5 separate regions of the Homo sapiens genome follow, and all the other regions are linked to region 2. The links come from fine-mapping of genetic effects on gene expression. A gene starts in region 2. Each other region holds a variant in brackets. All regions are shown on one strand. Distances are between the middles of the regions. Region 1 has its middle 18 kb from the start of MYOM2. Region 2 holds the start of KBTBD11 (kelch repeat and BTB domain containing 11). Region 3 overlaps ARHGEF10 (Rho guanine nucleotide exchange factor 10). Region 4 overlaps LINC03021 (long intergenic non-protein coding RNA 3021). Region 5 overlaps ARHGEF10 (Rho guanine nucleotide exchange factor 10).

The links. PIP is the estimated chance that this variant, and not a neighbour inherited with it, causes the effect.
Region 1: its variant is the best candidate, but not a certain one, in a credible set for the expression of KBTBD11 in atrial appendage (GTEx, PIP 0.86).
Region 3: its variant is the best candidate, but not a certain one, in a credible set for the expression of KBTBD11 in esophagus mucosa (GTEx, PIP 0.68).
Region 4: its variant is the best candidate, but not a certain one, in a credible set for the expression of KBTBD11 in left ventricle (GTEx, PIP 0.90).
Region 5: its variant is the best candidate, but not a certain one, in a credible set for the expression of KBTBD11 in tibial nerve (GTEx, PIP 0.64).

Annotation. Positions count from the first base shown.
Region 1 is chr8:2,024,362-2,030,382 of GRCh38, reverse strand. No RefSeq gene overlaps it. Among named protein-coding and RNA genes, the nearest start is that of MYOM2, 18 kb to the left of the region's middle. The variant T/A (reference allele first, on the strand shown) is at 2,991.
Region 2 is chr8:1,971,128-1,977,148 of GRCh38, reverse strand. KBTBD11 (kelch repeat and BTB domain containing 11) reads right to left here and starts at 3,472. Exons shown (of 2, transcript NM_014867.3): 1 at 3,214-3,472. KBTBD11-AS1 (KBTBD11 antisense RNA 1) reads left to right here and starts at 3,804. Exons shown (of 3, transcript NR_136275.1): 1 at 3,804-4,001; 2 at 4,486-4,609; 3 at 4,792-5,970. KBTBD11-OT1 (KBTBD11 overlapping transcript 1) reads right to left here and starts at 5,752. Exons shown (of 3, transcript NR_126346.1): 1 at 5,631-5,752; 2 at 5,112-5,224; 3 at 705-1,250.
Region 3 is chr8:1,944,005-1,950,025 of GRCh38, reverse strand. It overlaps ARHGEF10 (Rho guanine nucleotide exchange factor 10), which reads right to left. Exons shown (of 29, transcript NM_014629.4): 27 at 4,371-4,545. Among named protein-coding and RNA genes, the nearest start is that of KBTBD11-OT1, 24 kb to the left of the region's middle. RefSeq lists an enhancer at 1-356 and a silencer at 3,447-3,598. The variant G/A (reference allele first, on the strand shown) is at 2,284.
Region 4 is chr8:2,635,264-2,641,284 of GRCh38, reverse strand. All of the region lies in intron 2 of LINC03021 (long intergenic non-protein coding RNA 3021), which reads left to right. Among named protein-coding and RNA genes, the nearest start is that of LINC03021, 90 kb to the left of the region's middle. The variant T/C (reference allele first, on the strand shown) is at 2,392.
Region 5 is chr8:1,926,595-1,932,615 of GRCh38, reverse strand. It overlaps ARHGEF10 (Rho guanine nucleotide exchange factor 10), which reads right to left. Exons shown (of 29, transcript NM_014629.4): 24 at 3,966-4,189; 25 at 3,173-3,330. Among named protein-coding and RNA genes, the nearest start is that of KBTBD11-OT1, 42 kb to the left of the region's middle. The variant C/AC (reference allele first, on the strand shown) is at 3,538.

The DNA of each region.
Region 1 (6,021 bases), 53 kb before region 2:
GATGATAAATTATGTAAATATATTTTATCTCAATAAAAATATTAAAAGACACAGATAAAGACAGAGATATCTATCTACAGACTATCTACCTCCACAGAATATATTATAGATATCTGCACATCGTGATGGTTAATTTTTATGTGTCAGCTTGGCTAGGCCACTGTACCGAAATCTTTGATTATCATTATTCTTGACATTGTCATGAAGGCATTTTTAGGTGTGATTAGCATTTTCATCCATGGGCTTTGGGTCAAGCAAATTGCCCTCCACAGTGTGGATGGCCTCACACACTCAGCTGAAGGCCTTCAGACAAAAAGCCTGATCTCCCAGGATTCTGCCAGGGGCCGGCTTGAAGACTCAATGGCAACTCTTCCCTGGGTCTCCAGCCCACCCAGCACCTCCATAATTACATGAGCTATTCCTTAAGATAAATCTCCTTTTATGTTGGGTTTTGTGTTTTACATCCTGTTGGTCCTGTTTTTCTGGAGAATCCTGACATTCACACAAACATGCATGCACACACACACGAATACACAACACACACACACATGCATGCACGCACACGTGAATACACAACACACACAAACATGCAGCATGCACACACGAATACACAACACACAAACATGCATGCACGCACACGTGAATACACAACACACACAAACATGCATGCATGCATACATGAATACACAGCACACAAATATCCATGCATGCACACACAAACACAAAACACACAAACATGCATGCACACACACGAATACACAACACACACGCATGCATGCACAAATACACAGCACACACAAACATGCATGCATGTACACATGAATATGCCACATGAACATGCATGCATGCACACACAAATACACAACACACAAACTTGAATGCATGCACTCACAAATACACAACATGCATACACATGCATGCATGGACACACAAATACACTATACACACAAACTTGCATGCGTGCACAGACAAATACACAACACACACACAAACATGCATGCATGCACACATGAATATACAACACACACAAACATGCATGCAAGCACACATGAATAAACAACAGAAACATGCATGCACACATACATGAATACACAACACACACAAATACACCACACACATACACACACAAGAACTGAAGACTATCAGCTTGAAAAAGAAGGAAATAATAAAATCCCACAAAATGAATATGACAACAATCTTCTTCTTGACAGTCTCTGTGAGTCGCAAAAAATATTTTCAAGTGACAGCCTGACTTGGGAGTCAGAAATGAAACCTGGCTGAAAGAAGGGGAGGAATCCAGTCAGTGAGCTCCCCAGGGACCCCAAAGAGGCGTTCCCTGAGGGCGAGGATGCAGCTGGGTGCAAAGCTCAAATCTCCATGCAGCCCCCAGCATCACCAGGAGAACCCCAAACCCTGAGCCGCTTATGGGAGTCCCAGGCTGATGCTTCCCCACCACACCAGATGCCTGCAGAGGTCAATGTAAATATAACCTGGAAAAGCTACCTTATCGAATAGGAAAATTTATTCCTACAACTTAATTTTAATGATTTATTTTGTTTGACCCAATATATCCAAAAGATTACCATTTCAACTACATCACACATAAAATTACTAATAAAATCTTACTTTCGTCACACTAAACCTATGAACGTGGTGTGTATTTTACAGTCACAGCGCATGTTGATTCTGAGGAGCCTCATTTCAAATGCCGCAAGTCTCCCTGTGCCCAGCCAGTGGCTCAGCCCGGGAACTGAACCTGGGGGGGTCCTTTCTAAGGCAGAACCGTAAGCCAAAGTTCAACTCCTGGGAGTGGGATTAAGCCTGAGCAAGACAGGATTAGCAGAGCCAGGAAATCGACAGTGACCAGATCCACATGGGGGAAGGGAGCAGGCCAGGAAACCTCAGCGAGTGAGACATCATCTTTTAAAACATGGACCAAAAACAAGAGTAGAGAACAGTCGGTGAAATTATAAGAGCGTCATGTCCCCACCCTCCTCCTAGAGGTTCAGGAAAGTTAAATTCTTAATCTTACAAGCACTTTTATACAAATGAGCAACAGAAACATTGAGGTTACATTCCATAAACAGTCCCATATGGAGAGAATGAGAAATAAACTAACTCTACAGGTGGAATTGAAAACGGGACAAATTCAATTCTAATAAAGGATACAATTGCAAGGAATCAACCAGATGTGGATAAAATTGCAAAGAATCAACCAGATGTGGATAAGAATTGCGAGGAATCAATCAGATGTGGATAAAAGCACGAGTTCATTGAATGGGTTACCTTCTGAGAGGGATGGGAAACCAACTTCTTATACTAAAAACTGGGTAAACAAAAAGGAAAAATCAAGTTCTTTTTTCCAGCCTCCTGAATGTAAATGGTACCACTCGGTAACCAAGTGTAGGTGAGGAGTGGATCTCCTTATAAAACTATTCCAGCCAACATTTGAAAACAGGGTGAGGAGATAGTAGCACCTTCTCAGACTCCTTTTCTGTTTTCCTTATTAATTTCTCAAATTCAGTTTTTTTCTTTCTTAAACATTTCTGAACTATATAAGGTTTATTTTTGACATTCACTATATAGATGTGTGTTTTTTAACAACAGCTACTGGGAATTTGAATACCACTTAGGCCCTTTTGAACTATGATCCACAGGTATTGGTCCCTTGCTAATTGACAGGCATTTCTAACCCTAGTGCCTGTGTTATTTTATTTTCGTTTCCATGACTCTGTAATGGAGATTCTATTATTATTGTGATTTTACACATGAAGCGATGGAGGCTTTGAGAGGCTGGGCACGGTGGTTCACACCTGTACTTCCAGCACTTTGGGAGACTGAGGCGGGCCAATCGCTTGAGCTCAGGGGTTCGAGACTAGCCTGGGCAACATGCTGAGACGCTGTCTGTACAAAAAATACAAAAATTAGCCAGGGGTGGTGGTGCACACCTGTGGTCCCAGCTACCTGGGAGGCTGAGGTGGGAGAATCAC[T/A]TGAACCCAGGAGGAAGTCAAGGCTGCGGTGAGCCAAGATCGCCCCACTGCATTCTAGCCTGGGCAACAGAGTGAGACCATATCTCATAAATAAATAAGTAGATTTTCAGGGTCATGTGTGGTATATGAGCAAGCCTGGAGTCCCAGCAAAGGATCTCAGCCTCAGAAGTGTGAGCCCCTTGCCACCTTCTTGCAGGAATGTCTGCTGGGAAGTGAATTCTACCCCCGCCCCCAGGTCATGGTGAAGCCCTAACTCCAGTGTGGCTGTGTCAGGAGATGGGCCCTACAAAGGGGTAATTTAGGCTAAAGGAGGCCCTGAGGATAGAGCCCTTGTGTGGTAGGATGGTGTCCTTGCAGGAGGGAGAGGACACAACAGAAGGTGGCCGTCTGCAAGCTGGGAAGAGAGCCCTCCTCAGGCACCGAGTCAGCCAGAATCTGGATCTGGGACTTGCAGCCTCCAGAACTGTGAGCGATAAATGCCTGCTGTTGAAGCCGCCCGGTCTGGGTGCTTCGCTACCACAGCCGCGCTGACTCGTGTAACACTCACAGCAAAGCTTGTTTGAGTCTTGTGACCTACAGCCTTAAATTGCTATTTAACTATTACAGGTGAGTGCTCTTGCACCCACATCTGTGTTTCTGACCCCCAGCCCCCGGAGCAGGGAGTAAGCCCTGTGTTTCTTTTGACCCCCGACAGTCTACTCCAGCACAGTGCTGTCAGCAGACGTGGTGGGAGGTCGATTGCTGCGTGAGGTCGTGTTTCCAGAATGTACAACACCGAGTGTTGAGCACGTACTCAAGTCCTGTGTGTTCCAACTTAGGGAAGAGTCTTCAGTGCCGCCTGCTCCGTCCCCTGTGTCTCCACCATGCCCAGCTGTGACTACGGCCCCTAAGAAGGCTGCACTGTGGCTGGACGCATGCAGAGGGCTTTTGGTGGCTTTTAGTCTACCCCATAGGCCATTGCTAGAAGTTTTGCTTCTTGGTCCCAAATGTTTATCTGCCAGAGATAAATCATAATAATGCTATAGAGCACGTGATGCATCCCTGTGAAATACGAGAACAGCAAATGCTGAAGAGGGCTGTTGGCCACTGATGATCCCAACTCTACATAAAGGTACATTCACAAAATTCATGGAAAGTTCAGAAGAAAGTTGGGCGAAAGTTTAAGACTTTCATGAGACCCTAATCAGACACTCACAATGGCCCACATCGATGGCAATCTACCTCACTCACAGGACATGTTTATTTTGGAAACATAAGAAAATGTGTTTCTGGGCATGCAGGCGAAGTGAGGGACAGCTCTAGGGAAGGAGCCAGGAAGCCACAGCCTCCGGCAGAAGCTGCCCGGCTGCATGCAGCCCTCGTGTCAGAATGGCTTTGATGTTTTTTAAAGGGTTGTAAAAACAAAACCACATAAAAACAAGACTATTTGACAAACACTGATAGGCCCACAGAACCTAAAATATTTACTATGTGGTTCTTCTCAAAAAGTTTGCAAACCCCTGGTCTAGATCACCCGAGTTACAGAGTGACTTTTTTTTTCCATTTTATGTGCAAAAAAGTTTAATTAAAATAGCAGCTTGGGCCAGCCATGGTGGCTCACGTCTGTAATCCCAACACTTTGGGAGGCCAAGCCGGGTGGATCACTTGAGGTCAGGAGTTTGAGGCCAGCCTGGCCAACATGGCAAAACCCCGTCTCCACTAAAAATACAAAAATTAGCCAGGCGTGGTAGCACATGCCTGTAGTTCCAGCTATTCAGGAGGCTGAGGCAGGAGAATCACTTGAACCCGGGAGGCGGAGGTTGCAGTGAGCTGAGATTGTACCACTGCATTCTAGCCTGGCAACAGAGCGAGACTCTAAAACAAACAAACAAAAAAATAGCAGCGTGTTTGCCTCAGGCAAAGCAGATACTTACGGAGGGACGGGAGTGTGTGGTAGGAGTGCCCGTGCAAGTTACAGTCCCTGACGAGCCCCCCAGCCCACTGACTAGTCACTTGGAAAGTGACATTCCTAAACTGGCTACAGAGTGACTCCGCTGTGGGATGCCTCTGGCCTGTCTGATAAACGGCTTTCCTTCTGCCAGTCTGCTTTGAGATCTGTGGACAGGTTTCAAACATGGCTCTAAAGCCCTGCAGTAACCCTGCAGCTTGACACGGAAAGTTTGCTATGCAATGAAGCAAAGTTTCAAATCACACGAGTGTGTGTTGGCTCGGCTCAGTGCCATGCCTCCACCCTCACAGAGCGCGCAGTATGAAGCCATAGGAACCCCCCCATCCACCTCACAAAAGCAAGGCTGTTCGCAAAATAGGGTTTTAAACCGATGAAGTCATAATGTCATAGATGAACTTACATTGGAAAGTCTAAACAGAAATGTGTAGAGCAGATGCTTCCAAAACATTTGAAAATGTGAGGAAAGACTGCAGTTTTCACTATGCTAATACGTATAAAAATATAATTTGAGGTTTTCCAAAAGGCTCAAAGCTCCTGTTGGTCGGTGGAATCCACTAGGCTCAGACGTTATGTTGACTTTTTTTTTTTTTTTTTTTTTGAGACCGTTTCACTCTGTCGCCCAGGCTGGAGTGCAGTGGTGCAATCACAGCTCACTGCAACCTCCATCTCCCGGGTTCAAGCGATTCTCCTGCCTCTGCTTCCCAAGTAGCTGGGATTACAGGCATGCCCCACCATACCCAGCTAATTTTGTACTTTTAGTAAAGACCGGGTTTCGCCATGTTGGCCAGACTGGTCTCGAACTCCTGGCCTCTAGGAATCCACCTGTCTCAGCCTCCCAACGTGCTGGGATTGCAGGTGTGGGCCACCACATCCCGTCTATAGTGACTACTAACTCATCAGACTTGAATGTACATAGGACACCACGGTAGGCTCACATGAAGGGGGGCCTGCAGGGTGTCCTATGATTAACACGATCGCGAAATGATTTCCTTCATCATATGACATGCATTATGTTTGAAAATAAAAATGCACTTCAGTGCTCTAGCAAGCATTTATTGTGTGTGCGCAATGTAAATAGAATAC
Region 2 (6,021 bases):
TGTCTTGGGTCACACATAAAATAGACTAACACTAATGATAGATGATGAGCTTAAAAAAAAAAAAAACTCATAATGTTTTAAGAAAGTTTACAAATCTGTGTTGGGCCTCATTCAAAGCTGTCCTGGGCCACATGTGGCTCGTGGCCCATGGGTTGGAGGACCTTGCTCTAAAGTGTGAAGCTCCATCAATTTAACTCAGCCATAAAATCGGCTGACATTACACTTTTACTACACCCTGCTCCAGCGCCCCTCACTGACCTCTCCGTGCTCTAGTCCTCACCACAGGGCCTTTGCACACAATGTTCCCGCAAACTGTCCCCTCCTGGGCTCCTGAGCCACCCCTCTCATCCCTTAGTTCTCGGCCTAACATTCCTCTGTTACGTGCATTCAAGGGAATGTATTCCTCTCCTTCAACGCACTCATCTCCGTGTGTTATTACCTAAGAATTAACGTAATTATATGCTGAATGCCTTTCACTGTATTAACGTCTCAGCTGCAGATAGCAGAGAACTAGGCTGACTTTACTTACAACTGTATTCCCAGCACCTAGGACTGAGCCTGACCCACAGCAGGGTGGGGGGTGGGGGAGCAGGGGAACTCCACAAATATTCAGAAGAGAAGGAAATTCATGCTAATCCTTCAAACAAAATGCACATAAGACATGCAACGGTTTCTATTTCCAAGACAACATTTATTTCAAAATCATTTCTAGCAGGAACCTGGCTGTTGGCAAAAAGTAAACTAGATGCTTTAATTTATTCTTAAAGTTTTTGCTCATTGTTAAATACTTTGCAAACATGTGCTGGATACCAACACTATACTTTTAGCTTAATTACAATGATTTCAAGAGGAAAAAAAAAACAAACTCAAGACCACAATTGACACGATGAGCCCTTGACCTCCGGAGAAGGGCAGATATCGCCCTGAGTCACCAAGGGAACACATGCTGAATGACAGGCTGATTTGTGATCAGGAAACCCGCTGTTCTCCGGGCCCTTCTCAAGCCCACTCAGACACCAGTCCTCCTTGATCACAGCCTTGGATGCAAGGAGGCTTAGAGGCACTGCAGCTGCCTAAGTGATTCCAGATTTGCAGGAGAGCTATTATTACTGAGCAATCTGTGCTCTTGGTATTTAGAAAACAACTGAAACATGTGCCCAGATGGAGGCGTCCACAGCACGGAGAGTCTCTCTGTATCAGCACAGGGACAAAGACGGGACCTGCTGGGCTCCCACTGCCAAGGTTGCTACCTGTACCGGAACATATGGAAACCCCATTGAAGCGGGTTTGTATTGGAGTTTACAAATGATGCGATAAGCTCCAAACCACCTTTCCGGATTCTTCCATCCACCCAGAGCAAGGTGCTCTGAGGTTCAAGTTAGGCCCAGACATCAGTCAACACAGAGTCCTGCTCCCTGGGAATTTCTTTAGTCTCAGAGCCACAACATTTAAGCTTTCTCCCCTCCTCCCAAGCCCAATGCTGGCTTAAATACAGTCACGAATGGTTCAGATGCAGACAGGTTCTGAGAAATGATAGTTAGATAACTTCATCACTGTGCAAACATCACACAGGGCACCTACACACCTAGGCGGTGCAGCCTGCTACACACCTGTGCTCCACTGCACAGACTCCTGCTCCAGACTGCACACCTGTGCAGCGTGCACAATACCGCAGGCAATTGTAACACAATGGTGTTTGTGTATCTACACATTTCTAAGCATGAAAAAGACACAGGGAAAACAGTTTTATAATCTTACAGGACCACCGTCAACTTGGCGGTCTGTAATTGATCCGAACGTGGCTGTGCTACACATCACTATAATGTAAGCAACATCTTTTAACTGATTTTATTATGTGCTGTCCAATGCTATGGCCAGCAATGCCTGTGCAACTGACATGGAAAGTTCAAAGGCTTTACCTCATTACAATTTTTACTTAGTTATGCCCTGATGGGAGCATTGCAATGCCAGTTACCATAAATCTGCACACACGAGGTTGTTGCTGGAGCAAATCTGAAGGCAATGGAACGCTCCCTTCCGTGATGTCAGGAATGGGGAGGATTATTCTAATAATAGCACACTATTAGCTCAGGATAAAAGGCTGAAGGGTTCCATTGACATCCATTAAGGGGTCCTAATTGGAGCCTGAGTAACTGCTCCTTAGTGGGAAATGGAGGCGGGAACCGCGGGGAATCGGGCGAACTTCTCACTCAGGGCCTGAGGGGATGGCTGGAACTTTAAAATCTGACGGCGGCGCCTTTCGTGGGCTGAGTAGAATAAAGCTCGCTGCACTGATTTGTTCCTTTTCTTTTCCTTAGAATAGACACTGGAGTGGGTGGAGGGGGAAACGTGGTTTTGTAGGACTCTAAAGAGGTGGAGGGACTTTGGTTCACCCTCTTTTCATGCTCCAGAATGAGCCCCGCCTGAGAGGAGGGACCCCTGCGGAATCCCGCCCAGACCGCCCGGGGGTCTCCCCAGCACATGGGGCGGGGGCTGCAAGGGGCGCCCGGCAGGACTCGGGAGCCGCGGCGCGGTGGGGCGGGTGGGTCGCGGTGCTCGGGGCTCGCGGGGGTCAGCAGCCAGGACACCCCCGCACCCCGGGCGCAGCGGCGGAGGACCAAGGGCCGCGCTCCCCTCCCCAGGGCCCCGAGTCCAGGAGAGACCCCCGTTCGCTCCGGACAGCCGATCCCCGCGACCGCCGAGAGCCAAGCGGAGCAACCCCGGGAGGAGCCCCCGCCCTGGCCCCGCGCGCTTGGCTTCGGCTTCTGCTCCTGCTTCCGTGCCGGCTGGGGCGGCGGGACCCTCGGCGGGGGCGGTGACTGCGGGCGCGGCGCGGGCGGCTCATTGTCTTCCGGCCGGGGTTGCCGCGTCCCGGGGGAGGGCCTGTGGAGACCCCGCGAGGAGGCCCCCACGCCCCCCACGCGGCCTCCCGGAGGCGGAGCGGAGACCACCCACCGCCGCCCACCCCGCCGCGGGCAGCGCTGCCCCCTCCTCTCCCGGTCCCCCCTCCCCTCCCCTCCGCTCCGCTCCCCTCCCTCCCCTGCCGGCCTCCCCTCCCCGCCTCTCCCCTGCCGGCCTCCCCTTTTCTCCCCTCCCGCCTACTGCCGCTCTCGCCGACCACCTCCCACCCGCCGCCCCCTCCGACCCGCGCCTCGGGCTGCTTCCCGCTCCGCCCGCCAGGCCCCGCCGCTGCCTCCCCGGGGTCCGCCCTACCTCGCCGCGGCTCCTCTTCAGCCGCCGGGCCCGGGACGCGCAGCCAGGCGGGTGGGCTCCGGCGCATGCGCGCGGCCGCTTCCCGGCACCTGTGGGAGCCGCGGCCCGGCCTCTCCGAGCACCTGCGAGCGGGAGCTGCTCCTCCGACCCGCAGCGGGGCGTGGGCGGCAGAGGGGGCGGTGGACAGGCCTCTCCGCCTCTCCAGGCCGCGCGGAGCCAGCGCTCCGGCTCCAGGCTGCGAGGGGCGCGCGCGGGGCGCGGGGAGGGGGGCGGGCGCGTGCACACGGGGCGTTTTCGGGCGCGCGCCCCCTGGCTGGGTCTGCGGAGGGGCTGTGGGTTCCCCGGGGCTTCCCTGCCCCGCGCCTGCCCGCCGGGCGCTTCTCCCCCTCCAGGACCGCGGCCCACGTCGCCACTCGAGCCCGAGCCCGAGCCCGCGCCCACGCGCGGGGGCCGCTTCCTGCGAGGAGGCGGGGACAGGTGTCCGCGGGCGCAAACAGCGGAGTTTCGTGCGCCTATTTTTTGGTAAAAGTAGAGGCGATGCGTTGTTGACATATTTAGTGGTTAAAAACTTATTGCCAAATTCTCAACAGATTCCAGAATTTTTTAAAGTTCACAACACGAGAGTGGACGAAATGTCGGAGCTTTTGCTCATATCCAGAAATGTGGCCTCTGCCTCCCACTCGGGCCCTGCGGTGCAGACGGGTTCAGGGCGGCGAGGACTGAGCCAGGAGCGCCGAGAGTTCCAGCTGCTCCCAGGCTGGGTTCTAATTAACGCTGGACCCCTGCTGGTAAATGCTATTTTTAATGGCTTTGTGCAAATTAATGACGATGAGATTTCCATAAGTACCGAGAGCCAGAGCCTTTACTTTCTCTTTTTGTGTTCTTTTTGCTTGTGACAGTCTTTGCCAGTTCCATGCTGTATACACATAATGAGCCGTTACAACTCCAGCACCAAAGCTAACGCCCCGGGAACATCTTTAAAACCTTTTTCACTCTGTTGCCAAGAAGAGTAGTACCTGCTGTCAGTACTTGAATTACAGGAGGCTGAAACTCAGCGAGCTACTGGGATTTTTTGAAAATTGAAAACTTCCGTTAACTATAGCAGAAACAGACCCTTTTGGTGGAAGCTAAAATAATTCCCATGCTGCTCCGTTTTTATTTTGTTCAGTTTACTCCAAAAATGTTCCAAACTCTACTGTGATCTTCTTAGTGCATCTCTACTTCCTTTCGGCTGCAGAATAATACTTCTTTTTCTCTTTTGTTTTTTTTTAGAGATGGAGTCTCACTCTGTCGCCCAGGCTGGAATGCAGTGGTGCAATCTCGGCTCACTGCGATCTCTGCGTCCTGGGTTCAAGCAATTCTCCTGCCTCAGCCTCCCAAGTAGCTGTGACTACAGGCATGCACCACCACACCCAGCTAAATTTTGTATTTTTAGTAGAGACAGGGTTTCACTGTACATTGGCCAGGCTGGTCTCGATCTCCTGACCTCAAGTGATCCACCTGTCTTGGCCTCCCAAAGTGCTGGGATTACAGGCATGAGCCACCGCGCCTGGCCTAACTACCCCCATTCTTTTCCAGAGAAACGTGAACAGGCCAAACAAAGCCTCACCTGGCTATCCCGCCACCCTGGGGTTGGGCCTCCAAAGGCCCGGGAGGTCACCTAAGACACGGTGTTCTGAACATGCAAGCCCGACAGCATCTTCTCTACCATTCTGCCAGAGTCCAGAGACCTGGGAATAGGTCATACCCCCCACTGCATTTTACAAGCTTGGCATACATTAGGTTCTCAATAAATACTGAATTAATGAAAAAATTGCTGAAGTAACTGAAAACATCCATCCAAACCCCACACCATCTGGTAGATAAGTAGTCTGTGGGGAGTCCCATATTTTTCTTACCTTAGATATTTATTTGGAAATGGACTGTAGGCCCAATATGGTCAATGAAACTTGCAGAGGAACATTTCATGCCTTTAATTAGTTCTTCATAACTGCAGGGACCTCTAGAGTTCCTGAAATTGAACTGGGTTGTAATACTGTCAAGAAAAAGGAGGACCTATCTTAAATCTATTTCAAGGGTAATACTATTTTACTATGTAAATTTTCCCCTGGTCAGGGACAGCCTGATCATGCATGGTAGACTCGAAGCATGCAAATATTTCAACATGCAAAACCGCCCTAAAAATATAACCGAAGCTTATGGAGTTGTCCAGGGTACAGTGGTTTACTGGCCCCTGAATGCGGGACTCCATCAAACTGGGTTCCAGGCTGGGAGGTCTCTGAACCCAATTTCTAGACAGCCTGCTTTGGAGTTCAACTGATGGGACCTTAGACACCAGCCTTACCCTCTGCAAGTCTTGTGATTTGGAGCCAGATACTTGGCCTCTCTGTGCTCCAGGGAGACACCACTGCACCTACCTGAGAGGACTGAAGGAGAGGATCTGTGCAACTCACTCAGGATACTGGATCTTAAGCCAATGGGTGGACTTACATTCGTCACCTCTGATTCTGTCTCCTCCTGCGCGGTGACTTAGCAAACACTTCTTCCTCTCCAGCTCTGCTTCTTACTCTCCAGCTCTGCTGCCCTGTTCCAGTGCTGACGCCAGACAACAGATAATTTCCCAAATGCTTGTATTAGCCCTTAGGAGTTCATGTGTTCCTCCCCCAGCCAATAAAGCTGTTAAATCCCAATAACTGTCAGGAATGGAGCCAATTGCTATAAAGTACTTCCAGCTTCTTGGCATGAAGAAATAATTAGAATATATGTGTTGGCTTTGAAACAACACTCACTGGTTCATTAAAAAATTCT
Region 3 (6,021 bases), 27 kb after region 2:
GCCACAGAGGCAGACGCATCTCCCGCCCTGGAGGCTGGGAGAAGCTGGGGGTGTAAACAACACCATCCAGGTTCATTCAAATAACCTCAGAGACAGAACAGTGAGTAGAAGAAGCAATACGTCCCCCAAGTATGGGAGGGAATGCTACCAGGGGGATTCGCCCTCTGCTCTTCCCAGCCTGGAACATAAAACAAAGGACAGGCCAGGGCCACACCGGCCACCGAGAAAGGCTGTGGCTCCCAAGTCCTCAGTCTCGTTCGTTAACTCACCATCTTGAGTCCGGTTTCATTTACTGAATTCCCTTACGGTGTAGTCCATGGTCTTCAGAAAAGTTACACGTTTTTTGTCTTTTTTTTTCTAATGGAAATTTTGGCCATTTTATTTGGTCACATAGTTCCTGGAGGCTCTGTATTCGCTCGGTGGAGACTCAGAAAGGCGCAATTTACCATGTGTCTCAGCACTTTCCCATCAAAAATATCCTCCTTTGAACATGCGGGACAGAGCAGGAAACATCTGCCTGGTGATGTAACCTACTGCAACTGCTCACAACCTAAAAGCTGAGGCGCCGTGAACTCACTCGCTGTAAACTCTACTCCTTTATAACTTAGAAAGGTAACGACCGCTCTAACGAATGTGTATGTTAATCACAGACCTTCATCAACTGTTAGTCTGTGTTGAATCTGATGTAGCTTATGTGAAAGAACGTGAGCTAAATGGTTTTCAGAAGTGAATTCCAAATAGAAGGAGAAAAGCCAGGGCCTTAGCTACAGATTCACGGATTCCCCAGGGGCCAGCGTGCTGAGACCCTGAGGAAGGAAGGAGGTTTCATCACGTTGTGTGAACTTACACAAAAGGCATGAGTTATAATACAGTTTGTTTTTTTCAAATTTTGTTGTTTCGGCTTGGCAAGTCTTCATTTGCAGAAGCTACCTGACTTTTATATTCCAGCAATAGCACAAAAAGATAATTTTATGTCTTGTTGCCACACACACACACACACACACACATGAAAACCCATTTGAGCATCGTCATGAATACAACTCTAGAATGAAGGTTTTGTGTGTGTGCGAACAGAGCACAGAGGACATGTGTGGGCCTCCAGGAACCATCTTGGACGATAAGGAGGAGAAGAACCCAGGAGCAGTGACGGCCCGGCGACCTCAGCATCCGCGCACTTCAGCACGGTATGAGCATGCCCCCACCGGAATGTCTAAATACAGCATGAAATGCAATAATGCTTATTTCTATGAAATATATGAAATATTAGCTGAAAGGCAAAGACGACTAGACAGAGGAGATGAGATGAAAGGACTCTCTGGAGGAAAGGACTCTCTGGCCTGCTCATTCCCTCTGAGTCACAAAATGCAATGAAAATCAGAACCATTTCAGTCTATGCCGCACTGAGGATCTTACAGAGAATCACTGTCAGAAGCATCACAAACAAAACTGAACTTCTGGTGTCACCGAGGTTGCCTCTAACCCGTGTACCTTTCTCCTGCTGACAAGGCCACGGTGGCAGCAGACCACAGCCTGGGAGCAGAGAACTGAATGTGGGTAAAGCAGTCAGTGTACCCCAGAAATCAGTGAAGCTGGAGCTATTTCCAACTTAGTACCGAAATGCCGGAGAAACCTGCCAACGAGAAGCACGGCACTCCATCTGGACAGACTCATGTGTTTGCTTTCATGCGGGTCTAAAATGCAGACCTGACTATGTCGTGTAGGAATAAGTAAAGACCCACGATTCAGGGGCCCCCGGAGCAGGGGGCTGAGAGCACGCACTGTGGCCATGGAGAGCCAGCCCAGGATGTTGGAGGGGCCCGGGAGAGTGGGCGCCAGGGGATGGTGGCTCTGCAGAGCCCCATGCATCTGCTGCCAAGTGAGAGGCTTGTGGTGGGCTTGGGATGGATCCATCATCGGCCGCCTGGAAACTATGAGCTGAAGGGTGAAAAGTCCCAAGGAAGGCTCAGCGCCCAGCCACAGACAACTTCATCATCCAAAACACGCAACACAGGCAGCTGCGATTTAGCCAGAACCTGCGACCTGAGCAGCCGGCAAGGGGTCTGCATTCTGTTTCTGGGTGGGTGCAGGACTGTGTTGGGTGCTCTATGCTTGGAGGGAAGCAGGATAATTCCATCTTTCTCTTCTACAGGAGAGGTCAAAGACAGTATCTAAAACAAAGCATCAAGAACCTGCCATACAGGAGTGGCTTTCGAGCAGCAGCAGTAGGGAGGCGGGCGGGAGAGGCAGCTGACAGCGGGGTGGGGTATGGGGACAGTGCGGGGG[G/A]CCGGGGCGGGTGCTGACAGTGGGTGGGATGCTGGGATGAGAGGGTGGGTGCTGAATGCGGGGTGGGGTGTGAGGATGGGGGCAGGGTTGGGTGCTGACAGTGGGTGGGGTGCTGGGATGGGGGCGGGGCTGTGAGTCCCCAGAGCGCAGGCTTTCCTATCCTGCTTTGCTTTTCATAGCCTGGGCGTGAGTGCTGTTGGGTTTTATTAAATCGTGTGCAAGGGTTATTTTATTAAGAAATCAAATTCAAAATACAAACTCCACTCACACTTGCCAGAGCCTTCCCTTGATTAGGAGTTTCTTTCTGATCCCACCCGGAGAGGGATAAACACCAAGGATCCTGCAGGGCCGCTGCATTTCCGTGGCTGCTCTCGGAACTCTGAAACCAGGGTAACCGTGGGCTGCTTCGCCCCGGAGGGAGGTCTGCGCTGCAGGGCAGCTGGGGCAGGATTTGGAGGCTCGGGTGCTGGAGCCCACGGGAGGTCGAGTGGAGAGGTTTTTCTCATAACACCCTCCTCACCTCCCCTTGTGTACAGAACTTTGAACACATGGACACTCACTGCCGCGTGAGAGCGTGCTTTGGCAATTACGGATGTGACTTGGTTTTGTCCCAACAAGGACAGCCTATTCCTGCAGCAAACATTTGCTCTAGCAGTGAGTGCTCCAAAGAAAACACAAGGTCCACAGCAGAGCGTCTGCTTTCTGAGCCACAGGGACTTAACCATTTTGGTTCTCTAAATATAAACTTGCATGTTACATAAACCTCCTTTTCTCACTAAGAGAAATCTCCTGTAGTATTTTAACAATGACTTGTACAGTTAGCCCCTGAGAAAAGAACGGCTATCATGGACCCACCGTGCACCGAATATATTCACCCTCCCATCTCCAGTGGGAGTGCGGCGGGGACACGGAGGCCCCGAGGAACATCCTCAACACCTCCTCGGCCTCCTCATCCTCCCCTTGTCAAAGGACGGCCTCACACCCGTTCTAGAACCAGACCCCTAATCATTGTGGTTTTTTTCAACGTATCATAAATGGCCCGTCATGGACTGAATGTTTGTGTCTCCCCAGATTTCGATGTTGAAGCCCTGCCCGCAGTGGGATGGTGCGAGGAGGCGGGGCTTTGGGGACGTGATTAGGGTTAGATGAGTTCATGAGGATAGGGTCCCCATGATGGGATTAGCACCCTTATAGGAAGCGGAGGAGACCCCAGGGCTCTTTCTTCACCACATGAGGCCCCAGCCAGAAGGCACCAACTGCAAAGCAGGAAGCAGATCCTCCCAGAAACCGGCCCTGCAGGCACCGTGCTCCCCGGCATGCTGCCTCCAGAACGCGGAGGGGCAGCCTCTCTGGCTTGTAAGCCAGCCCGTCTGTGGCGTGTGTCACAGCAGCCGAAGGGCTCGGAGGCAGAGCCCTTACTTCATGCCTTCCCCTTAAAACTGCAAATGTCTTCCAATACCCACCAGCAGGCAAAGAAGCAAAACAGCCCTTCCACGGACCCCACAGCGGCCTCCGGCTACCCGTGAAAGAAGCCGGTTGGGCCCCCTCCTCATTTCTTTCCTCCATCCTGTTGTAGGATGATCCTCCCAAAACTCAATGTGTAATGGCCTTCTCCCCTGCCCAGAAACTTCAGTGACACCCACCAGCAACAGGGCATTCACAAACATAGGCCTCTGTTGGCCTCTCCCCAACAGCCCTCCCAGCCAAAGGGAGGCCTCCTGTTCTGTGTTCTTCAGCCTCAGGTCCTGGCTTCCCCAGGGCCTTGTTGCACCGATGATGAGAAATCGTCTCCCACCCACTCTGACCTACAGAGATGGCACTGCCACGCGGCTCCTCCCAGCACGCGGCTCCTCCCAGCACGCGGCTCCTTCAGGACCTGTGCCCTGCACCGGGAAGCGCTAAAGTGGGCTGACCATGCTCCGTACTCCCACGTCTGTCCCTGGGCCTTGTCCCACCCCATTACCTGGCAGCATGTTGTGAACAGTGTCCTGCACTGGGAAGCGCTAAGGTGGGCTGACAGCGCTCCGCACCCCCCACGTCCGTCCCCGGTTGCTGTCCCATCCCTGGGCCCCGTCCCGTCCCCTTACCTGGCAGCATGTTGTGAACAGGGGTGGCGATGTTGATGTCCTGCAGGTGCTTGAGAGTTTCCGTGTGAAAAAGGCGGAGCGTGGACCCTGAGGTGAAGGCAATCCAGATCCCGACGCCGGACACGGCCATGTGGGAGATCACCATGCCTTCCTCCTGGTGGGCCTCCAGCTGACCCTGTGAAATCGAGAGGTCAAGTCTGCTAGCCCCGTGGAGTGAGTCTGAGTGGGGCCTGTTGGGTCCACGTGGCGTCCAGCTGGAGCGCCATTCAGTGGCTGCAACACAGTAGCAGGCTTTGCTCCAAATCACAGGCGTCTCCAGCAACCAAACACCAGCAACCCAACTGCCTGCCATTTTCCAATCATCCTGGCTCCTTTGTGAGCCCAGAAAATGGCCATTCCAAAGACACAGGCATGGTGCGCCTGCCGAGGGGCCACTGAGCTTGTGTCCTAAAGGAGACATGGGCAGGCTGGCGAGGGGAGGCACAGGATCCATCCCCCCAGGCCCATCAGAACCTGCTGGAACCTTCCTCGATGTCTCCAAGCTATGGCATGGGGCCCCACTGCCTGCCTGCAGCCTGACCCTGGTTCTGAGTCTGTGCCTCCTCTTAGCTCTGCTGTCCTGGAAAGGCACCTTCTGCTTCTCCAAGCAACTTGGTCCTTCTGGAGCTTCCAGGCTCAGCTGCAGCCCCGCAGCTCCGAAAGTGCATCCCAGCGGCCTGCTCTGAGGGGTCCCACGGGTGCCTGGGCCTGGGCCCTCGTCACCCCACAGCCAGCAGGAGCTGCTAACACAGCGACCCCCCAACATGGCCTCAGGGGCTGCCTGGAGTTCAGGCTCTCTGGGATCAGTCCCAGGAGGACTGCCCCCGCCTTGCCCATCAGGGATTGGAGGGGGTGACAGAGGGTGAGGGCTGGGATGAAGCTTAGAGACACTGCGTGCCCCAGGAACCAGCAGCCTCACAGCTCTTGAAATTAAAGAAACTCACGATCCTGCACAGTTATCTAAAGTAAAGTGATGAAACTCATAAAAACCCACAGGAAATAACCAGACTGACATCTTGGCCCTACGAGTTGTCCCACAATCTGAGAATAAGGGAAAAGACGACAGCCCCCATGGTGGAGACTGCTGACTCCACACACATGCCCCGTGGCACCAAACCCCATCCTGCGGCACTACGCCGCGCCCAGAGCCCAGTGAACCCGGCGGGCAGGAATTCAGGGATGCGACTTCAGTGGATGGGAGATCCCTTCTCCCATGGCATCGCCTCTTATTTCAGTTGAGATTCCATCAGGGACAGGGGCCAGAGGACTCCAGCCTACACAGGGGCGCTGCAGGGCCTGAGAGCTGAGGAGAGGACTGTGTCCTCAGGCTGGGCACGCAGGGCTGGGGTCCCGAGGGAGGCGACACGGTGCGGGAGGCTGGGGCCCCCAGGGAGGCGACATGGTGCAGGAGGCTGGGGTCCCCAGGGAGGTAGCACGGTGCGGGAAGCTGGGATCCCGAGGGAGGCGACACGATGCGGGAGGCTGGGATCCTGGGGGAGGCGACACAGTGCGGGAGGCTGGGGTCCCGAGGGAGGTGACACGGTGCGGGAGGCTGGGGTCCCCAGGGAGGTGACACAGTCAGGGAGGCTGGCCCACACGGCCCCAAGTCCCA
Region 4 (6,021 bases), 660 kb before region 2:
ATGCAATTTCAGCACTTGGGGCAGAAAATCAAGGTGTTTTGTGTTTCTGTCGGGAGTGTGAACACTGCCCTCTGAGACACTGCAGACCAGTCCGCAGCACAGGCCTCCAAGTTTTCCCACATGTGGCACATCGAAGCTACATTCGAGACCTTCTTTGAGCGTCATATTTGTGGAATTCCTTTGCCCTGTACACGTTAATAAGTTTGTTATTGCTTGCCTCTTTTTGAACTGTCTACCCTTAGTTCTTTGCAGAGAACCTTCAGAGTAGACAGCAGGGAAGCTTTCTCTCCATCCCTCTACCTGCAGACACTGGTTTATCTGCACAGCTCAGGGCTTTGGTGAGACTGCCAGGGACAGCCCTGTGGCTCCTCCTCAACCCCTTCTGCTTCAGGGAGATAATGGCAGGGTGACCGCCACCCAAGCGAGCTTGGCAGAAAGGAGAAGAAAACTTTATATAAAAGTCCCAGGGATGGGAGCTTTTAAGGGTCAAGTTTCCCAAATGACACAGTAAATGTGAAAACATGTAAGAGCATGGTATTTTCTGTTTCCTGAGATGTAACAATAATACGAATAATCACATTCATTAAATTACACCTATTAATTATACTTCTGTAGTGCTTCTTAGTTCTAGATGCAGTCACAGATCTCATCATTTCATTGTATCCTCTCAATGATCTCGTGATATTTAAATTTCAATGCCCTCATTTATAAGGGTGGAAAAGGACAAAATTTACAGAGATTGTAATTTACTCAAGTTCAAAACAATTTGAATTTAAGTTTTCTGTATCTTAGTCCTTTGTTTTTACCACCATGCCATCCTATTTTCACTTAAAAATACAAACATTTTATTGCTTCAGTGAACTGAAATGTGATAATAGGAATCTGTTAGTGCATGCCAGCTAGTAACCTAAGGCTTCCATGTGTTATATTTGTGGTCATCACAAATCCCCACACTGTTATGAATCCCATTTTACAGATGAAGAAACTGAAATACAGACATTCAGTTTCTTGCCCATAGTCACTTACAGTAAATAGGGATTCCTGGACTCAAACTCAGGCAGTCCAGAGCCTCCCTCATAATTACCAGGTTATCCTACCTCTCTGGAAGCTGCTGACAAATATTAACTGCTTCAGTCAGTAAAACTGCAACCATTTTCATGCATTTGCCTACTCGAGTTGCTGTGACTAAGTACCACAGAGGGGGAGGCTTCAACAACAGATGTTTATGGTCCAAGACCAAGTTTCCATCTGATTTGGTTCCTGGTGAGACCACCTTCCGCGGCTTGCAGGTGGCTGCCTTCTTGCTGTGGCCTCACATGGCCTTTTCTCAGTGTATGCACTAGAAGAGGGAGAAAAATGTCTGTCTCTCTTCTTAGAAGGCCACCAAGCCTGTAGGATTAGGACTCCACTCTTATTACCCCCCTTGACCTTCATTATCCTCCTAAAGCCCGATCTCCAAAACCAGTCAGACTGGGGATGAAAATTTCGATATATGTATTTTAAAGAGAAACAATTCAGTCCAGAGTGTATCAACAAACAGTAAAAACACAATTAATGGATGTTTTATAGCCTTTATCATTTTACGTGTTTTAGATTTCCAAAGAGTTGCAACTTCTTCCGTCACAGTGTGTATTGATTTCCCATTGCTTCCATGACAAAGAAGACGGAGTTGCCATGTTCAACATGCCCAGCCCCCAGGTAGTCCCTTGCCCACTGGCATAGCTGCCGGCATTCACCCCTGCAAGCTTCCAGTTTGCTTATTTATGTCTACAACTTGATTTTACAGGCTGCTTTTGTTAGAAAAGAAATGATTTGGAGGCTGCCTTTCATTAACAGGAAAACCTTACCGAGGATTTCCTTACCCTCACTACCTGCCTAAATAATTTCTTTTGAACTCCTATATCATTAACACAGTCTCGGGTCCAGGGAGTTGGATATCGGTGTCTTTGGGGGACCCTTACTCAGCCCAGCACTGGCTGAGTGCAGTGGTTAAACTCATTGCTTCATGACATCATCCTGGGCACTGGGTGTTCCACTTTGCACTGGGGGTGAGAGGAGTCTCCCAGCCCTACTCCAATGACAGGTTGGCTGGGCTGAAGGGTCCACATGGCTGTAAGTCTGGTGCCTTGGTAAGAATAGCTGGGAGGCAGGAACAGCCCACCACAGAGGATTCCAGGAGGCCAGGCAGAAGCTGCAAGGCCTCTTACGGATTAGGCTTGAAGGACCCAGAGTGTCACTTCAATTGGTCAAGCAACCCACAGCAAGACCAAGACCAGATTCAAAGGAAGAAGAATTTGATTTCATTTCTGTTTGTAGACGTAACAAAGAATGTGCAGCCCTCTTTACCCTCTTAAACTGTCCTCCCCTTCAAAATACCTGTAGTTATCATAC[T/C]GTACTTCTGTTGACTTCTATACCCAAAACTAATTATTGGGTTATAAGCAATACAACTACATTTTTTCTTTTGTGTTTTATATTTATAATTGACAAAGACAATACTTTTAATTTTATTTTAGAGTATCTTTATACATCAAACGTATTTGCTCATCAATGTATATTTACTTAATCTAATCCCTAGTGTGAAAACAGAAACTCAAACTAAAAAGCAAGTATATTGTCATATACAAATGCATTATCATTTTCATAGAAAAGTCCAGAAAGAACACATAATAACATTTAACTTTAGTATCAATTAGAGAAGAAAGACTTTTAATCCACATGTATTAATTGCTCATCACTATTTGATATGGTTTGTCTGTGTCCCCACCCAAATCTCAACTTGAATTGTATCTCCCAGGATTCCCATGTGTTGTGGGAGGGACACAGGGGTCCGTAATTGAATCATCGGGCTGGTCTTTCCTGTGCTATTCTCCTAAAAGTGAAAAAGTCTCATGACGTATGATGGGTTAATAAGGGGTTTCCCCCTTTGCTTCCTCCTCATTTCTCTCTTGCCGCCACCATGTAGGAAGTGCCTTTTGCCCTTCACCATGGTTGTGAGACCTTCCCCAGCTATGTGGAACTGTAAGTTCAATTAAACCTTTTTGTTTTGTAAATTGCCCCGTCTCGTGTATGTCTTTATCAGCAGCGTGGAAACAGACCAGTACACTATGGTAATTGGTAAAGTTAGGTGAATTTCACTATTTTGTTTATTGATATGAAGTTGAAAATCAGAAGGTAGGAAAACTTGGAACAGGGCTGTCTTTTCTGATGCCTACTAATGGCTGAGACTATAAGTGCTAAAAAATAAATATTAGAAATGAAATGGGTTATTTTATATTTTAACTTTTAAAAAATTTTAGGTGTGATATTTTTATCAATGAGATTGTGCTAACAAGACATTATATGGAGCCTTTAGTAAGTTGACTCCGTATGTCCAGTCGAATTTAAAATTGCGGTCAATATAAGAAAGCTGCATGTTGTAGTGGTGACGAGTTAGCTGTGGGGTTTCTCAGATCTCTTAGATCTTTTAGGCATAGAGGGAAAAATAATATATTAACTGTGTGAGAAACAAGAAATGAAGTTAATTGAAAGGGAACTTAGCAAGGAAAATCAATTTTCACTGCAAAACAGTGTGCTGCTGCTGTTGCAATGTTCCCTGCTGCAATCCAGGAGAATCTGTGAATAAGAAACAGATTCCTAAGGTCTCCTTTCACTATTGAACCCTCTTCCAAGGACTGTTGCCAATTACATGAGATACTTCAGTTTCAAAACATAGAAATAAATTTTAACAAACTATCAACAAAAAACAGGGTTAGGGTTTGAATGTCTGTGTCCCTCTAAAATTCATGTTGAAACTGAATGCCCCATGCTGTAGTATTAAGATGTGGGAGCTTTGGAAAAGTGGTTATGTCCTGAGGGCGCCACCCTCCCGAATAGGATTAAAAGACCTTATAAAATGATCTTCCCAGAGCTGCCTGGTCCTTCCTTCTGCCCCTTCTGCCATGTGAGGATAAAATGAGAAGCACCATCTATGAAGCAAAGACGAGGCCTTCACCAGACACCAAATCTGCTGGAAACTTGACCTCGGACCTCCAGCCTCCAGAACTGTGATCTAGAAATGTCTGTTTATAAGTGACTTAGTCCGTTGCAAATGTCTTGTTATAACAGCACAAATGAACTAAGTCAACCAATTTGATAATTAAAACAATAGAGAGAAATTGTTTGATTTTCATAATGGCAATTTCTCTTATCACAACAGATTTTCATATTTGATGTCTCTATGTTTTAAATGTTTATGAAAGTAATACATGCTTTTTTCAGTTCCCTTTCCAGCTTTATACATGGTTCTTATAAAATGCAATTATCATAGAGTTCTATTATATGGAAAGTGAAAGTCCCACATATTATTGCAACCAAAAGAGAATCATCATGGTTAGTTTCTACCAGGCTCGCATTTTTGTTCCTTTTGGAAAAACCATTATTCCCAGAAACAAAGAACATCTCAATTTAGAAAGAGGAGATTTATACTGAGAGGCAGAGGACACAAGTTCCAGTTCTCTCTCTCTCTTTTTTTTTTTTTTTTTTAGACTGAGTTTCGCTCTTGTCGCCCAGGCTGGAGTGCAATGACACCATCTCATCTCACTGCAACCTCCACATCCCGGGTTCAAGCGATTCTCCTGCCTCAGCCTGTCAAGTAGCTGAGATTACAGGCGCATGCCACCATCCCTGTCTAATCTTTTGTATTTTCAGTAGAGACGGGTTTTCACCATGTTGGCCAGGCTGGTCTCGAACTTCTGACCTCAGGTGATCCACCTGCCTCGGCCTCCCAAACTGCTGGGATTATAGGCGTGAGTTACTGCGCCCTGCCTACTTTCTCTCTTATACAAGGTGGTTCCCTATAACATATAGTTAATAATGCCTTAATTGATGATGCTTGGGATGTGGTCAGGGACCTTTTCCGTTTTAAAAGTCTTTTGTAATTTTATTTTTTTAAATTTTTTGTCTAAGTAGCACAGTACTTAACTATTGCAGATACATGTCTGCCTGTTCTACAGACCTACAGACTGATTGCGTTAATCAGAATTCTTCAGAGAAACAGATCCAGGAGGTCTATACCCACACCTATCTGACTATAGCTTCAGAATCTACAGAACTAGAAAAATTTATTTTACAGCTGACATAAGAAATATTAGGATATACACAGAATATTCAATACAAATTCATCATTCTTTTGCTTTGCATAATACCTACACATGGCTAGGTAAAATTTTGAGCAAATGGGTATTTGAATTGAACTAAAACTTGTTATCAGACTAGAGATAAGACATTATGCTTTGACTATGACCTTTCTGGTTTATAAATCACCCTCCTTTTCTTTGTTAGAAAAAGTCAAGGTTATACATTTTATTTTTACTCTCAAAGACATGTTAGTTATATTGGCCTAGAACAAGTAACATATCAGTTAGGATTTATAACTCCAGCCACTATGTATAAAATGCAAAAATCCTATATTTCTATGGGAATAAGAAATTAAATCACATTTTAGAATTGGAGCTTAATTCCTCATTGATGAGTAGGAAACCCAGTATTTCCATCTGTGAACAACTTAGAATCAAACCAATCATCTCAAATGGGGGCTATTTTCCATTTACTCTCAAAGGCATAACCATATAGAAACATGGTGAGTACTGGCAGCTGCGTGCAGTTTGATACGGTGGGATTGCAGGGTGTGAGAACAGGAAAGACTGAGAGGGATGTAAGGGGTAGTGAGTGCAACAAGGCTTTCACACGTCGGGTTTACAAGTTTCTGTTGGATTCTGTAGGCAGATTCCGAAATTTTGCTGTGTTATCAAGTGGTTGCTAATTAAATGCAACCTCCAGGGCTTCCCTGAAGAGATTCTAAAGTGGCAGGTCTAGGATAAGGCCTCTACTGAGCTTCCTACTTTTCGAGGGATACATATTAATGGGAAGGAACTAAAATTTTACCATCCTCGTCATGAGATTCTACAAATATGGAGCGGACGGCAATCCAATGAAAATGTAAGTAAAGGCACAATTGTAGTGTTTAAGATTTGCCTGCTAGGT
Region 5 (6,021 bases), 45 kb after region 2:
CTTGCTTTTCCTTTGTAATATCTGCACAGGGCCCAGTCTATCATTATGTGATTAAATATGCACATGCACCCATGCACAACACACATGCACGCACACACACACGTGCACATGCCATATGCACACACACACGTGCACATGTCACACACATACACACATGCAGGCATGCACATGTGCACACACACCCACAAGTACGTGCACCTGCCGTCACATGCACACAGGGACACACACGTCTGCACATGTGCACTCAAGGCACACACACGCCTGCACACACATACGCCCTCACAATCACGTGTGCATACACACATGTGCATACATGCATACACACCTGCTCACACAATGCACACCCCTCACACTCCTGTGCATACACACATGTGCATGGGCCTTCCCATCTGGTACTCATAGCCCTTTAAAGCACGGCACACGGCAACCTCCAGAAATATGTGGGCTCAGGGCAGAGCTACAATTTTCTCTGACATTCACACACTCTGAAGGGCATGGAGTGGCACAAGAACGCAGGGTTGTGAATCCTAGGTCAGAGCTCTCTCTATGCACCGCCCACTGTGCTTGGATCCTGGCTGTCAGGTGTGGCTTGGCAGTGTCCTACCAATAGCACCATTCCTTTGAAACGAGAACTCAAAGATCAATGACACGATGGCCTACTTCAGACGTTTCCCTCGGTTAAGGTTTAACTTCCAACAACTGAACTTTGTTCTCTGAGCACCTGGGTGGGTCATTCTGCAGTGTGGGCTTGTCTTTCTTGGGATGACTTCTCCCTGTGTATGTGTCCCAGGCCAGAGCCCTCAGCAGGATCCCAAATCGCAGCCGGAACCAGGCACACGCTAATGACGTTTTGAACTAACACTTAAAAATCTGGAAATTGCCCACAGAATTTCACATTTTTAAGTCCCTTGAAAGCTCAGAGCTCTGGCAACAGTGAGGGGCTAGGAAGCAGCCTCCCCCTCCCTCTGCCCGGGCCGAGGCCTCCAGCCAGCCACGTCCCTCACCACCAAGAACGAAGTGGCAGGCTATGCGCTTCTGCGCAGGCTGCCTCGCACGCTCCCACACGGTACGCCGGACAGCTCTTGGTGAGAAAGATGCGAAGAGACACGTTCAGCAGATCTCAGTTACAGATCATGCAACGCGTCTGACAAGGCGAAAACACAGCCCTGCACGGGGCTCCACAGTGGACAGGACAGCAATGCAGCCAAGTAAGAGGCTGGAGAGATGCTCGCTAGTAAACCCAGGGGAAAAAAGGGGGACATAAGCATAAAATACATTTTACGTAATAGAAATGTTATTTCTATTGCATTTAATAGAAATTAGAAAAACAGAAAAAAATCCAGATTATATGAAAAAGTCCTATCAACACACATTCCTCCACGAAGCTTCATGAAAGAGTTGAGTGCAGAGTGGTAGGAACACAGGCAGCAGGGAGGCGGCTCTCGGCGCACATGCGGAGGGGCCTCCGCCTACCGTGGAGCAGAGACAGGACGGGAAAGCCGGCCAAGGAGGCTGGCAGAGGTTATGACAACAGGTGAATGACAAAGCAGGACTGGAATGGGAGAGCCCAACCCCGAAGACACAAAACCGTCCATGGAGAACTGAAATCATGAGGCCAAGTGAAGAGGGGGTGCAGACCGGAATCCAGGCCGGGGCACCCACCGGATGAGAGGGAGGCAACCAGAGGCCCGCCAAGGAGCCAGGGATCGGCCAGGGATCAGCAGGGTCACACTCCAGATGGCTGAGGGACGAGACAGGAGCGGCTCCTGTGCTTACTCCACCTACCGGAGTGAGAAAGAAGTCCAGGCCTTCTTGGCGCAGGTGCGCACAGGCCAGGCCGGAACCACACGGGAGAAGGAGGGGCCGTCCCCGTGGAGCAGGTCGAGAGAGCCTCCCCAAGGAGGAGGTGTCAAAGTCCGGGGGCAAATAACACCCCAGGCTCTGGGAGGGGCTGGCGCAGATTTCTAAGGAGGGAGGAACTCCAATAGCAGCACTCAGAGCAGAGAGAACGGGGGTGGTTGGAGGGCAGAATGCCTTGTGAGCAAGGAACAAGGACTGGAGGACTGGAATTCTATTCTAAGTACACTGGGGACTCACCACACAATTTTCAGCGGGGGGGCGGGGAGGGTAAAAACCTTATTTACAGTTTAAAAAGCTCAATAACAAATATTTGGAGAATGAATCAGTAGAAGCGGAAGAATGAAGGCGAGGCTACGCTGCCATCCAGGCGGGAGCTGGGCGGTGTGGACCAGGGTGGTGATGATGGGGGAGTGAGCTGGGACATGGTCTCGGGGTACAAGAACAAGTGGTGGATGGCCTGGGAAAGATAACAGGACCCGCCAAGGCGTCGCTCCCGGCCGTGGGGAGGGTGGTGCAGGGCAACTTTCGGTGAGGGAAGCCCTGCGTGTTCCACTCCAGGATGGCAGCACCGAGACTGGCTGGGATCCAGCTGGGGCTCGGCACCCCTGCGCTCAGAGCTGAGTGAGGGGCCAGGAGAGCAGCCTCAGCCAGCACCAAGGAAGCTGGAAGGAAAGCCCCGTACCCAGAGCTCCCACAAGCAGCGGCGGCCAGATCCACAGGAAGAGCCTGCAAAGCACAGCTGCCACCAACGCGGCAGGGGCTGGAGAGAGAACAGACACACAGCAGCTGCCCACCCCCAGCGGCTGCGGGGACCAGGCGGGATGGGCCAGGGAGGGCCTCGTCTAAGGCACCCAGCAGAACACAATGGAGTCCTTAGCCCTGTGGCCAAGAGAACAGCAGGGACCGAGGGCACGGGACCGAGGGCACAGCACCGGGGCAAAGAGGGCTGGCCCAGGTACAGGAGGCCCCGCCGGGCGGGCAGGCTGCTCAGCTGGTCAGCGCAGGACATGCTGAAGGAGGCTCTGCATGGCCCGGTGCCCCCATCCGAGGGGGAGAAACAGGCAGGCCGAGAGAAGTGGGAGGGTGGGAGGAGACGGGCAGACTGACTTCTGAAAGATGTCTGTATATTCAACAAACACCTTTTGGGGAAGAAGCAAGGCACCCGGGCCTTGGGCAAGGGTGACGAGCGCAGGGGCGGAGGCACAGGGGCGGGAGGCAGGAGGCCGGTGGGGAGGTGGGGAGGCTAAACCGGATGCACAGTCCCCTGAGTGAACCCCAAGGACCGGCCAGGAGGCCGTGAGACCCGCCTCACCTGGGGCTCTGGCGTAGCTGGCGACTGCCCCGTTGACCAGGCCAGCGTACAGGCTCTGAGACGTGCAAGCCAGGCTCATGACTGTGGACTTCTCAGGAGTGAAAAAGTGCTGAAGTCTCACTTTCTTGGAGCCTTGACTGCTTTTATAAATGGAAATGCTTTAAGAGAAAAATACAAGCTAATAAATATATTTGCTCGTTGTAACAAGAACGAGGGTGCCTGTTAACATAAACACAAACATTTCAACTCTTCCCTCTTGCCCTTCCTTCTCCATTCCTAGGGACACTTGCCAGTACTTTTAAAAAATTTGCAACCACCTTGATTTCTTTATTTTTAAAAGGGAAATTCTGGGATATATGAAAAAA[C/AC]TTAGTTCTTCCTACTGTGTATCTTGGAACTTCACATCAGGAAAATCATTTTAACTCTCCTTTAAATGGTGTCAGCAATTCAGTATGATCATGACATAGAATATGGCTGTTTTATTCCAAAATATAAGGGGGGAATGTCCTTTTCAAAACCATTAATATAAATGAGACATTTCAGTGGCAAACAGCCAAACTGTCCCCTTTAAAGAAATACCACTTCTCTTTAAGAGTTTCCTAGAATAATTTCCATGGGCCCAATTCACTAGTTATTTCAAAGTGCAATGACCCTAAAAATTTCCCCTGGTATCCCCTAATTCCTGCACGGGCTACTCCTGAGTCAAAGTCAAGGACTCTTTCCAGGACAGGCTCCCCACCACGCCCTCCATGGGCAGAGCTTGCTAATTCTCTGTAACGCAGTGAGCATGCCCTACCTTCCCTCCTCCGTCCCTACACAGATCGTGGGGACATCAGAAGCTCTCACGGCCGGGGTCTCGGGGTCCGGGGGTGCCCCAGGCTCTCTGCGCTTCTCCTCGACGGGAACGTACAGCATGCACAGGATGCGAGATTCCACGTTGAAGCACTCAATGACTTTGGGAGTGGAATTTTGAAACGAGACGATGGCAATCTGACCCATTTGATGGGTGCAACTTCCGATCTGAATCAGAGAATTAGGAGGAAAGAAGAAAACGACCATGTGGCGGCTTCCATAATACGCTGGAACCTGACCCTTAAAGGCCACGACAAGCTTCGATTTTCATGTGAGAATCAACACACTTAAAAAAATAAAAAAAAATTCTTAAACAATTGCTCACAGAGCCCCTTTTTCTTTTCAACACATTTAATTCAGTTTTCAAAAAATTTTAAAGCAAAAGCGTAACTTTCATTTCTACAAAGTCACATTTCTATACTTTAAAAATCACGTACTCATCACAATATGAAGGTAAGGGCCCATCTATCCTCAATTTAAAATCCTAAGAAGCAGATTATTATCAATTTTAATAACTTAACACTAATATTCAATGACCTAGGCTAAGAAAATAAACCTTTCAAATAGGAAAAACATCAGTAAGAATGCATCCCAAGTAGCTCATTGGAAGTCAACATGTGGTATGCTGTGGAATTTCTTTTTTTTTCTTTTTTTTGGAGACAGTCTCACTCTGTCACCCAGGCTGGAGTGCAATGGCATGATCTTGGCTCACTGCAACCTCTGCCTCCTGGGTTCAAGCGATTCTGCCACCTCAGCCTCCTGAGAAACTGGGACTATAGGCTCGTGCCACCACATCCGGCTAATTTTTGCATTCTTAGTAGAGATGGGGTTTCACTATGTGAAAGTACAGACGGGGTTTCACTATGTTTGGCCAGGCTGGTCTCAAACTCCTGACCTTGTGATCCACCCGCCTCGGCCTCCCAAAGTGCTGGGATTACAGGCATGAGCCACCACGCCTGCCGTGGAATTTCTAAAGTAGCATTGCTGCAACAGTGTACATGAACTTCCTGTGTGTTTGAATCTCTACAACGAGAACACATAGCACAGTTAGTTTCCCAATTTAAACTTAAATTTATTTGTCTTTTTTTTTTTAAGTGGGAAGGGGTCTGATCCCTGTAAACAGAAAGCACTAGCTGGTTTAGGGTGATGTTTTCATTGATTCTTTTTCTTTTCCACCAACTTTGAGAATGTTGTTAAACTCTCCTTATTCTTGTATTTGTTGTCGCTACATACAGACATCCTACTTTCATGCTTTTGTGGGAAGGATGCCAATCTGCCAAGCCCCTGTCCTGCCTACAGGGCCTGGGGGCTATGACCAGGCCAGGTGATGAAGCTTCAGCCATGACAGGTCTGCCTACCTGGACGGAAAACAGTTCTCTTAGAAGTGGAAGCCCCCAAGGGAATTAAGGCTACTCCTCCATTCATAGGTTGGTACAAATGAAATACCAGCTAATTGGGTTGTTCAATTTCTGACACTCAACTAGGAACACTGACCAAGCAGGAGCTGTGGATGTGAGAAGTGAGAGGCAGTGGCGTGCTGCACAGGACGCCTGGGAGGAAAGGATGAGAGTTTGGAAAAGCACAGTGGAGCCCTGGAGGGCGAGTCTGAGGCTGCAGGGAGGGAACACAGGAAACCAGAGAGGGGAGAGCCTGGGACCACACAGCTTCAAGAATGTCCTCTGGTTTGCAAGAACCAGGAACGTCTACTGCAATTCCAGCCTAATTTCAGATGCAATATTTCATTTGGAACAAATTAATTTTAACTGCTAAGTTTCCACTGGAAAAAGCCAGTCTTGGAACAAGAAAAAAAATCCATGCAATGTTGACACCAAAATGGAAAAACATATTAAAATTATTCTCTTATTAGTTAGTTGTCTCTGGACTCAACTTTATCTGGTAAATGTTTTAGATGAAAAGGAAAAGAAACAAATATTTGCATTCCTAAGAACTGTAAATCTTTTCCAAAAGTGATCAGCTCCCTTTCAAAGAAGTTTTCATGT